Homo sapiens: one gene and its partners. The protein of the gene in region 3 interacts with the protein of the main gene of each other region in a pairwise test. Each region holds a gene or a part of one and is shown on either strand. Other genes may lie near its edges. The genes, in order: BATF3, CEBPG and DBP.

Region 1 (3,645 bases), on a different chromosome or scaffold from region 3:
CTCTTACACACATACACATATACACACACTCACACACGTCCGCAAACACACTCACACACTCTCATACACAGCCCGACACACACACTCTCACACACACACACTCATACACAACCACAGACACACACACAGATACACACAGTCACACACACATCTGCAAACACACTCTCATACCCAGCCACAGACACTCTCACACACATACACAATCAACACACAGTCACACAAACACTCTCACAGTCACACACATACAGTCATACACACATACATACACCTCACACAGTCACACACACTCACAAAAACTCAGACTCACATGCAGACTCCCCACATTCACATTCACATACACACTCACACACACACACTCCACCCTGCAGCAGGAAATGCCCTTGACTTTCAAGTAAAATGGAGAGTACATTTGAATAGTTCCAATGTGCTAACATTTTAAGTAGATTCCAAAGGACAAGAAGCCCTCTTCCTTTGGTAGAATATTCCAAGCTGCCTTTCTACATATACTGAATTCCGCAGCAAGACGCTCTGAGCTTCCCAGTTTTGTCTCTGGAAGCCGTGCGCAGCCCTGTGGCCTGAGGCTTCCCTGAGGTCCACTGCCCTCCCCCAACCCATGCTTAGAGTCTTCAGAGCCGCCCGACAGGTGCCCCACGGGCCCCTCATCTGCCTTCTCCATAAGGACTTTCTCTTCTAGGATTTAAGCATTACTCATAAACCCGCTGAGGGACTTTTATTGAGCTGAGGGAATAACAAGAAGAGAAGAAGTCAAAATCTTTAGGTGAGACGAGCCCTTTGAAAATAACAAGAGGAGCTGGGAGGGAAGAAAGAAGAGGCCAGAGAACACTGAATAGCAGCAAAGGGGGAAGAAATGAAACCCACCTCACACCCAGAAGAAATTCCTGGAGTAAACGCAAACAAAAAGCAAGCAAAGAACATTAAACCCTTCATTATTTCCAAAAATATGACCCCTCTAGCTCGAATTCTGCCAAGTTCCAAATCCTTTGCCATGGGAGGGTTTGAGGTTGCTGTGCTCCCTCTCTGGGTATTTGTCGGGACAGTTTCAAAGCAGACACCTAAAAATTAGAGGTGGTGAAATCACTGTGGATCCCAGCTCTGCCTCAGAAATTAAGCTGCCTAAGGCAGTGGATCTCAAGTAGGGCAATTGTGGCAGTCTGCAGGGGACACTGGCAGTGTATGGAGACAGTTTGGGTTATCGCAGCTGGTCGGGGGTGCTACTACATCATGTGGCTAGAGGCCAGGGATGCTGCTCAACATCCAGCAGCACACAAGACAGGCCCCCAACAACAAGGAATTATGCTGCCCCATGCATAAACAGTGTTGAGGCTGAGAAACCCTGTTCTGGGCATCTAGGAGCAGGTGACTGGGATCAACGGGCTGCCTAGGGATACGCAGGGTCCAGGATGCCTCTGAGGCTGAAGACAGGATCAAGGACTGGTAAAGAAGTGGGTACCAGGGACCAGATATGACAACTAAGGTGAGAAAGAAAGAAGTAGGAACAGGCTAACAGGAGGCCATAGCCACACACAGACCCCATTTCACAAGTTAGAAAACTGAAGCTCTGAGAGGTACAGTGACTTTTCCAAGGTCACATAGACCTGGGATCTGACTCCTAACTTCAAGGTCAACTGCAACTCTCTTGTAGCATCAACAATTCTGCTTTTAGTTAGCAGTGCCTGGGTCCAGATTTCCCCATGATGGTTACCAGAAGTAAGAGGCCATAAGATCTCAGGACTTCAGAATAAGTCTACTCCCAAGCCTTCACTGATGCACTTCCCAGCAGAAAAATTGTGTTACCAGCAAGGGCTGTACAAATGAGTGCCACAATCAGTTTCTAAGCCACATGGGTGCTGCCATGAAGCTCTCAGAACATGCAATATCTGAAAAAACCATGGCAACACATACCACAATCACATTGCCCAAGTCATTTGTCAGTTTGTGACATTTGGGGCTCCTGAGGATGGCACTGCTGCTTTCCTTTTGTGACTCAAAATTCTTTCTCAGTCTTACACCTTTGGGGTGCCTGGTCGAGCCAGTCTGACCCACTTCTGAGCCACCTTTCAGCCTGGGTGAGATGAGACGAGACCCTGACTGTTCACTTTGGTTCTCATTTGTCAGTGTGGACTTTGGCACACGCCTAGTGTTCAGAGATGAATGCAGGTCGAAATCCCCACGGGAGGTGTGAGCGGGTTGAAGGGATGATTTGAAAGCCCACAGTGGACTCTGAGGTCTACAGACACACGTTAAGAACTGCTTCTCATCACCGTAGTCCAACTGCCAGCAACCACTGCCCAGAAAACTCTGCGTGAAGGGGAACCCCAGCCCCTGCCTCTCTGGCTTGGCCTGTGCAGCCTCTTCCCCCATTCTCCCCTCCACAGAGGGCTCGCCTTGACGGACACTCCTAGGACTTTGGAGATGGAGAACAAGGAGGGGAGGGAGGTGGCCGAAAAACTCCTAAGAGCTGCAGCTGGGGCAAGTTTCTCAGGGTGTTGGAGGCAACAGAGGCTCAAGTACTCACTTCAGCAGCACATACATTAAAATTGGAATGATACAGGGATTAACATGGCCCCTGAGCAAGGATAATATGCAAATTCATAAAGTGTTCCATATTTTTTTAAAAACCCAGGAAGACGAAAGAGCAAAAAAAACCCAAAAAAACCAGAGGCTCAAGTATAGGTAGAGTATGTGAGTGAGGTGAGGAGAGAAAAGTGGAAACTCTTGTTGCCCAGGCTGGAGTGCAGTGGCGTGATCTCGGCTCACTGCAACCTCCACCTCCCAGGTTCAAGCAATTCTCCTGCCTCAGCCTCCCGAGTAGTTGGAACTACAGGCGCACGCCACCACACCTGGCTAATTTTTGTATTTTTAGTGGAGATGGGGTTTCGCCATGTTGGCCAGGCTGGTCTTGAACTCCTGGCCTCAAGTGATCCACCCGCCTCAGCCTCCCAAAGTGCTGGGATTACAGGCACGAGCCACTGTGCCTGACCAAAAAGTGGAAACTTTAAACAAGTTTGCTCCAAATATCCCCCCTCAGGATATGCAAGAAATGCAAGTAAAGAGCTTGAGTTACTTTGAGATATTCAGGAATGCAATCCCTGCAGTGTGGGATAGAGGAACACATGAAGAAAGCCCTTTGATGCGCTACAGTCTCCAGGGAGCAGCAGGCAGTGGCTGTCAGTGGCTGTTTTCTGGGCCCTCTGGTGTCTCCCAATGAGCTGGCCTCACTCCAGATTTGAGGAGGAGGTTCCTATGCATGGTGTCCCCACCCTAGATTGGCCTGGGAGGTCCAGGGGTCCCAAGGGGCTTTCTGTCATGGCCCGCAGTAGTGTGCAAGGCGCTCTGTGCTCAACTCACTGGAGCTTGACAAAAGGGTTCTTTACACCATTTTTAAACCAGATACCTTGCCTCCAATAGTAGATTTAGTCATCCAATGATACACACAGCTACAATGCCCTCCTGGAAGGAACAGGGAAGGGATTACTCACGTGGTGAGTAATGATTTGGTTCAGAGATGATGTTCCTTTGGTTCTGCAGAAGGTTTGGGATATACTTCCATTTTCCTAAGCCAGTCGTCTGCTTCCTCACCCGCTTGTGACCAACGACACTTGTGTGGAGCTAGTGAGGCTAAGG
Region 2 (3,384 bases), about 15 Mb from region 3:
CTTTTTTTACCATATACCTTAACATTTGGGGGATTTTGATTCCCACAAAAACCTCTATCATTTAAAACCAGATATTCGAATTACAAGGCTAACATTTTTAGCTAATCAACTCTTCAGTGCTGATCCCAGAAAATAGCCTCCAATGGGTCTTTGAGTCATGGAAATGGACAACTTTCAGCCATTGACATGAGTGGTGTCGGTGGTCACACCTTTAACATTCAAGCCACAAGCTCTAAAGTCTGGAAAGGGTGAGGTCTACTGTCCTGCATTGTCGCCATCTGCTGTCGTATTTTCAGTGCTAATGGACTGTACGTTGTCTGCAAGGTTGTGTGCATGCTCAAGAAACAAATCTTTGAGTACACTTAATTCCTTGGTCAGCAATTTGATTTTTGCTTCCAACCGTTCATTCTCTTCTTTGAGCTGATTGACTCTCTGCAGTGTGTCTTGTGCTTTCTGCTTGCTTTTCAACCGGCTCTTTTTCACAGCCATGTTGTTCCTCTCTCGGCGTTGCCGATACTCGTCACTGTTTCGATCCATGGGCGAACTCTTTTTGCTCTGCTTGCTGGGAGCCACAGCTTTGCCTCCTCCCCCAGGGCCAGCAGGCACCAGCTGAGGAACCTGCTGTAAGCCGCTGGCATGTGCCTGGGTATGGATAACACTAATTCCGTTCACCCCTGGAGTGCTGTTTTGCTGCGATATCTTGCTCATTTGGGCACTCTCCCTTGCCAACACAGAACAGGTAGAAATGAGAGCAGGGTGATCAATGGTTTCCACGCTAAGCTGCCAAAAAATCTTCACATGTACCTAGTTAAAAAATAAATTGCATTAAAATATTTGAAATGACAGGATCAAATGAGATCAAACTTGTACGTACCTAACATCAGGCCAACATTAATTGATTCTGCTGAGAAAAGTCTACAGCAACTGCCAACTGTTCCAATGTTTCTGAAGTCTAAATCATTTCACTTAGAAAGGTAAGTAAGCACAGAAGCACCATCAGGCGAAACTCAGCCCACCTGGATCCCTGAGGGCACTGCCCCTCTGCGATTGTTATCAAAAATGGGAGGAAAACAAAAGACTTCCACTAATTAGGTGGCGCATGTGAACTAACAGCACTTGACAATCTCCCAGGGAGGAGCTGCAGCTGACTGTAGTAGGAGAGACACCTGCAATGAAAGGGGGGAAAAGTTTCCATTGTTGGTTCAAGTCAAAACAGAAGGCTGGGGTTGCGCACCCTGTCTCCAGCGCTCTCATGCTATCACCCCTGCGGGTTCCATGTTCTAATATGCAGAGAGGGAGTCATCGAGGACTTGAGTTCTCTCCCAGAGCTCTCTTCATCGGATATTTTGAAAAGGTAGTTTTTTGCTTTATTTTTTTAATGACCTCAAATGATAATTCCACAGTTTAACCAAATTTACTGAGTCAGTTTCTTGAATTTAGGAGCTCTGACACTCAATTTGCTCCCCATCCCACCAAGCTTGTAAAAAGTGTGTTTTTTCTTCTTGACATAATTAGTAAAACTCAAAACACACTCAACCTGAAACCACAAGGAAAGAAACAGAAGCCCTCATGATGCATCCAAGGAAGTGCGGGTCCTGGGACCCAGGCTGGACAAAGGAGCTGAGCAGCTGCCGTGCCTGTGGCCACTTCGTGCTACCAAATGAGCTCGTGTGAGCTCGGAGGACGCACCAGCTCTGAAGCATCCCTGTGCTGCTGCCTGCAGAAATGAAGGCACGGTTTCGAAAAGCAGTCACATGTGGATTACTCTGAATCCAATTAAGTCCCTACAGCTGCCCCAAGAAGTGTAAAAGTGTGACTATCCTATCAACATGAGGCCACTTCAAGACAAACTAAGTTCAGTGAACGGTGTCCACCAAGGAATCAGGGCACTCTTAGAAATTTAGAAAGCAGTGTTAGGAACATAAAACTATCCTGTTCTCTTTTCACAAAACTGCTAAAATCACATCAGTGGAAAAAATCTGGAGTCAGATTTATGCAGTGATCCCACAATGAGGGAAAGCTCAGTTAGCAAACACCAGTAGCTACACCCAAACCTTCAGCCAGGCAATTCTGTACACTGTTTATTGGTCTCTTTTTAAAAAACATCTTTGCTTTGAAAAGTCCATGTGTCATTACTTTCCATTGTTTTCAAAGCCACACAGCCGACTCTGAGCTAGTAGGTCATCTGTTCTCACGCCAACACTAAGGCAAGACAAAAAGCATCCCTCCAAACCATGAGGGCGATCCACTCCAAGCCTATCTTCAGTAATGGACAGTTCACAATTTCCCTTGGTCATCATTAGGTTGCCTCATTTTTCTTCCAGTAGAAAAGTGGCTGTTTAGTATTAATCTGAGCCACATTTAGTGCCACCTAACATTATTATTATCCATTTGGTGTCAAGTGAGAGGTGCTTTACTCAATTTTTAAGAACTTGTTTAACACCTCCCCTGAGACTGTCTTAACAATCATAATCATGTTCACCTTATTTCTCTACTTTTTTTTTAATATACCAATTATATTTTTAGCCTTTAAAGCTCTCTACAGTCAACTTGTCCATGCTCAGAGATAGCAATGATCCAAAGCGGTAGAGACCAGTGACCAGGCCAGTTCTTGTCTTGGCTGTGGCTCCCCCTATTTTAGTTTGGGCAAATCTCTTTTCTTCCATGGCTGTCTGTTCCCCACATGCAAATGAGGGATGTGGAATAGTAAGACACTTTCCTACAGACAACACACCACGACCTTCAGTCACTAACAAACAGCTCTTACTCACTACAGGGTCCACGTTCAGCAACGTTCACGCCTGTTTCCGTATCCAAAGATACAGGAACAGGGAAGGGCTTTTTCACCTCTGCCTGACTCATCTTGCAAGGTACTAGGCTGAACGTGTGTGGTAGGTGAGGTTTTAAAGGTAAGCCCTTTGGCCTGAAAAGAGTATTCACTGAACCTACAAACTGGTGAAAATGTAAGAAAGAGAAACTTGGAGATAATCAAAATAACTCCAAGAATGTTTTGTTTAGTAAGTTCTTTAACCATATAAATAGCTCTTAAAGTGAAGATTAACCAAGTAAAAGGGGATCAAAGAGCTAAGTGATTTTACACTGAAAAGGCCACTCTCATTTACGCTTTGTTCCTCCACACACATTTACTGAACACCTACAACAGGCAAAAAGTGTTTATTTGAAAGCTGGACACTCAGTCCTAAATTCAAGTCTGGCTCCTCTGTGGACAAACACTATTCCAAAGTTCAGGCTACAGGATGCAGGGCGGCGCCTGGCTTCCTTCCATGTGAATCACTCAAGGAGGAAACAGCAGGAAAGCTGAAGAGCAGTGGTTCTCAAAGTGTGGTCCCTGGACCAGCATCATCATCATCCAGGAACTCTTTA
Region 3 (4,436 bases):
CTAAGGACACAGGTTCAGGGCCGAGTCACGTGCTGACGCCTGCTTCCCTCCTCCTCCCTTCCTCCCAGGCCCCCGCCATCGGCGCCCTCACGTTCCCCCGGCCCCGCCCCCCTCGCGCTTGAAGGCGCCTGCGCGAAGCGCGGAGGAGGGATGGGAGGACTCACGTGGCGCAGGAATGTGCCGCTGGGAAGGGTAGGGCCCTGGTTCGGCCCGGAGGTCGGACCTGGAGCAGGTGTGCCCAGGAATCCCCGACCTGCAGTCCGTCCCTGGAGACCTCAATGTGCCCAAAGGGAAACATCTTTCCTCTTGCTCTTCCAGTCACTTAGTTCCACTCAACCTCCAAAGATTCCCAACCCCCTGCTCTCCGGGGAGCATCGGCCTCCTGGACCTTCCCAGAACCCCCGCCACTGGGCTACCACGATTCTGGGATCCCAGGCCTCTCCTAGGAATATAGGAAGCTTGGCCCCAGCCCCAATTGGAGGATCCAGAAACAACATCCCTAACGTTTTCCCTTCTGAAGAACTCTGGGACCCGGGGCTGCAGCACGCCCCACTGGGGGACCCAGGGACCTGGGCTGCCAGTCTCTTATGTCCTGGGTAAACAGAATTCTGTGCCTCTCCTTTGCCTTTGCCCCTGTAAAGGACCTAGGGGCTCCAGTCCTATCCCAGTTCCATCGATTATGGGCCCAGATTCGGGGGTCAGTCCACTCCCCAGTAAATAACTCTGGTGTTCCGGACTTCCAGTTCTGGCTTCACGAGTATCCACATCGTTTGTCCCCAAGTCCCACAGAAAAACCCACAAAATCTCATTGGGCAGGCTTCCTGGAATTTAGGGTTCCAAGTCTCTCCTCCCCCATGGATCCATTGGTCCCTGACCCATTAAGAGACACCGAATCTGGCCCCCTCCCACGACACCTCTCGACAACTGGACACAGAATTCGAGGCCGCAGCCAGGTCCCACGGTCCCAGCCCCCAGCGTCGCACAGCCCCGCCCCCTGAGTCCAAGCCCCGCCCCGTCAGGACCCGCCCCGCCCCCTTCGCCGCACCTGCGCGGTGGCCGCTGGCGGTCCCGAGGGCAGCCCGGGCGGGGGCGTGCCCAGGAGAGGAGCGGGGGGAAGCCGAGCCGCACGAACCCGGCCCTGGGGAGGGTGCGGGCGTCCGCGCGGGCGACGGCTCCGGCGACGGGCCACCGGGGGGCGGCGGGCTGGGCGGGAGCCCGTGCTCCAGCAGGAAGGCGTCCAGGTCTACGTACTCCACATCGCCGAACGGCAGCGTGCGCTCCCACAGCAGTGGCGCCAACAGACCCGGGGCGGGCACCGGCCCCGGGCGCCCCCGCGGGGACCCTCCGCCCACCACTGCCCCAGCCGGGGCATCCGCCGGGCCCGCAGTCTCCAGGCCTGGCCCAGGGGTTGTGGCTGCAGGCAGGGCCGCCTTGCGCTCCTTTTCCTTCAGGAGACCTGCGGGCCGGGAAAGACGGGTTGGGATGAGGGTGAGGTGGGGGAGATAGAGATGGAGAAGAGACCCCGAGTCCGAGAGGCACAGGGCGGAGATCCAGAGAAAGAGGGGACGGGGGGTCGGAGAGGAGAGACGGGAGAAAAAGGGACGGAGACGCAGAGTGGGAGAGAGACCCAGAAAGAATGGAGACGGGGGTGGCAGAGACAGGTGGACAGATTCACAGAGATGGGGACAGAATGCCGGGAAGGAATAGACACACAGAAAGACAGCGAACCAGAGAAAGAGAGACGGAAGTTCAGGAATAGGGGGGCAGGGACAGGGTAGGTGGAGGGTTGGGCAGGTGAGAGAAAAAATGACAGCTCTGTAATTTCACTGTAATTACCCAACCCCCATCCCCTGCGCGCTGTACCCCCTTCCCCTCCCCCACCATCTGTAAGGGGCAGGAAGGGGCTCTATTCCTGGGGCACATCCCTCATCCCTAGACTCCATGTGACCCCATGACGCCCCGCCCAAGCCCGTGTCACCACCGTGTGAGCACCCGACACACCCCCTCCCTGGGACCCCAGGGGTCCAGACTCCCGGACCAAAAGGAAGAGGAGGCTGGGGCCTACACTCTTGTGAACTAAGCGGGGAGGACGTTGGGGACGTTGGTGCCTGGGTCCTTAGGGTGGACGGGCTTCAGAGCCGGCGCTTTTGGGTCCTGGGCGCTAAGGGATCTAGGGGCCTAAACACCTGAGTAATTGAGTAGATTAAGGTTGGGAAGATGGACTCCCCGCACGCAGGTTTCTATGGGACCCCACCCCACGGCACCTGAGTCCCTAAGGGGGTAGGGTGTCCGAAGTGGGTGAGATGGGGGTTAGAACTCACAGCTGGCCGGCTCTTTGGGCTTGCTGGTCCCCTGCAGAAGGCTCCGCAACCCAAGCAGCGCTCCCCCGCCAGGGGGTGTCCCGGCCGGGCCGCCCAGCAGCAGAGGGGCCGGGGTCCTGTCGCTCACAGGCCGCGCCATCGCCTGGCACCTGCCCCCAGGCTCACGGGTTCATGGAGAGGCGAAGGGCTGGCCTGCCAGTCACCAGCACACTCCAGTGGTTTGGACGAGTGTCTGCCCAGGGGCGGGCGAGTGTAGCCTGCAACCCTCCAGTATCCAGAACGCTGCAAATCCTAGGAGCGACGGGGATTTGAGGTCCTCGGTGCAGAAACGTGCAACTCAAGAGGGTCCCGGGAGATCATGCAATCTGGGCGAGGGGGTGTCCAGATCAAGCGGTCGGCTCTTTGCAACCGAGGGTGAGAGGGGACTCAAGGCGCTCCTTCTACAAGGTGGGCGAGCCTGGCTCTTGCAAAATCTGCAGCTCTCGCAACGGAAGGCGCTTTGCAATCTGCACCGAGAGGTGTGCGCGGAGGGGCGGAGGAGGGGGCAGGAGGAGGCGGCCGCCTTGAGGCGTGGCCAAAGCAAACTTCTTTCGCGGAAAAAAAAATCCAAACCAAAACACCCGACGCCACAGCGCGCGCCCCTCCTCCGGGTCCCCGCCCGGCGCGTCCAGCCCCGCCAGCCTCTATGGGCATGCAACCCAGCCGCGTGCCTCCCTCCGGCTGCAAACACGGACCAATCGTCTCCGACACCTTGAGACGCACAGCCAATGGGGCCTCTGGGTCCGCCAGGGCCCAGGAGGGCGCGTGAGGGGCTCAGCGCGTGAAGTTGCCTTGCCTTTCGGTGGGAGGCGGGACACTGACCTACATTTGCCCAATGGGAGGCGGTACTGGGGGGCGGGACCGTGACCCAGTTTGGGCCAATGAGGCAGGCGGGAGGGGGAAGCACATGGCTCTGCTCGTGCTGCCTGATGGCGAGGGGGGTGATGGGGGGAAAAGGGGCGCCGCTTAAAGGGGCCGCGGTCCTAAAGATGGTTTTGAGAAGCAGGAAGCCAAAATACCGAGAGCGGAGGTTTAGAAAGAGGAAGATTGGTTTCCGGAAGAAGTCTGTTCTTTAATACCCAAATGTTTCCCCACCGCGCCTAGAATCAGACCACTGAGAAAACAGGAAGTATTCTGTCCCTTTAATAGCTTTGTTTTAGGGGTAACTCCCCTCGCCTTGTGGGGAGGCTTAGGACGGGCGGGTGCAATCCTCGAAGGGGAGTCTCAGCGACCATGGGGGACACCATCCACTGTAAGACAGAGAACAACGGCAGGGGGCGTCAGTATAGGATGGAAGGGGCGGGGGGTGTGCAGGGGGCGTGGGCTGCGCCGCGCTGGGCCCTACCGTCGGAAGTCTGCGAGCGGGGAACCAGAATGTACTAGGTCGAGAAGCACTGGGCTGAACCACAAGAAGCCAATAGGAGGGGGGAATCGGGACGTCCAGATTCAGCAGTAGGCTGAACTACTTGAAGGTCTTCATGGGGGGGGGGGGGTGTGGACTGTACCATGTTGCGAAGCCGGGGGTGTGTGAGATTCCTGGGCTAAACCACAGGGAGGCAGAGGTGGAGGGAAGGGGTTGTACCTTGTAGATTCTCAGTAAGGGGGAAGGGAGCATCAGATTGTGGAACAGCGTAAGGTAGTACGACTTGGAAAGGGAGAGAGGATCCAAATTGTACCATTTTGGAAATTCACAGTAATAGGAAGCACAGAACAGTAGGTAATTGGACCATAGGAAGGCAGGGGTCAAGGGTTATAGACCAAGTTACAAAGCAGTGAAGAGGAAAGACAAATCGTGGGCTAGCAATGGCCTAGGGCTGGCAGGTGGACTGTACCACATAGACATGTAGGGAAAGAGAGAAAAAGAGACAGCTCACGAGGCTAGACCATATAGACGCAGGAAGGAGGATGGGACTGAATCACACTGAGACACCAAGGGGAGACACATATAAGAGGGTTAGCCCAAGACTTAGAGGGGGTGCAGACTGGACCATACCATGCAGGCGGTAGTTGGGGCCTCGGCAGCGCCTCTCGGGGTGCCGGGGGTCCCTGTTGCCCCTCAGTGCCCTGTGGGCCAAG

What was found.
Region 1: the proteins of DBP (region 3) and BATF3 come close enough for resonance energy transfer, tested with the Homo sapiens proteins (one large-scale study listed by BioGRID and IntAct).
Region 2: the proteins of DBP (region 3) and CEBPG come close enough for resonance energy transfer, tested with the Homo sapiens proteins (one large-scale study listed by BioGRID and IntAct).

The regions. Positions count from the first base shown.
Region 1 is NC_000001.11:212,689,736-212,693,380, forward strand, and holds part of BATF3 (basic leucine zipper transcriptional factor ATF-like 3), read right to left. Parts: intron 2,633-3,645; exon of another isoform or gene 2,529-2,632; intron 1-2,528. UniProt on the Homo sapiens protein: AP-1 family transcription factor that controls the differentiation of CD8(+) thymic conventional dendritic cells in the immune system.
Region 2 is NC_000019.10:33,376,564-33,379,947, reverse strand, and holds part of CEBPG (CCAAT/enhancer-binding protein gamma), read right to left. Parts: intron 805-3,384; 5' UTR 709-804; coding exon 256-708; 3' UTR 1-255. UniProt on the Homo sapiens protein: Transcription factor that binds to the promoter and the enhancer regions of target genes. Binds to the enhancer element PRE-I (positive regulatory element-I) of the IL-4 gene. Binds to the promoter and the enhancer of the immunoglobulin heavy chain.
Region 3 is NC_000019.10:48,634,535-48,638,970, forward strand, and holds the start of DBP (D site-binding protein), read right to left. Parts: upstream 2,846-4,436; 5' UTR 2,461-2,845; coding exon 2,322-2,460; intron 1,457-2,321; coding exon 1,046-1,456; intron 1-1,045. Other genes in the region: CA11 (carbonic anhydrase-related protein 11 precursor), read right to left, coding at 3,585-3,610, 4,354-4,436. UniProt on the Homo sapiens protein: This transcriptional activator recognizes and binds to the sequence 5'-RTTAYGTAAY-3' found in the promoter of genes such as albumin, CYP2A4 and CYP2A5. It is not essential for circadian rhythm generation, but modulates important clock output genes.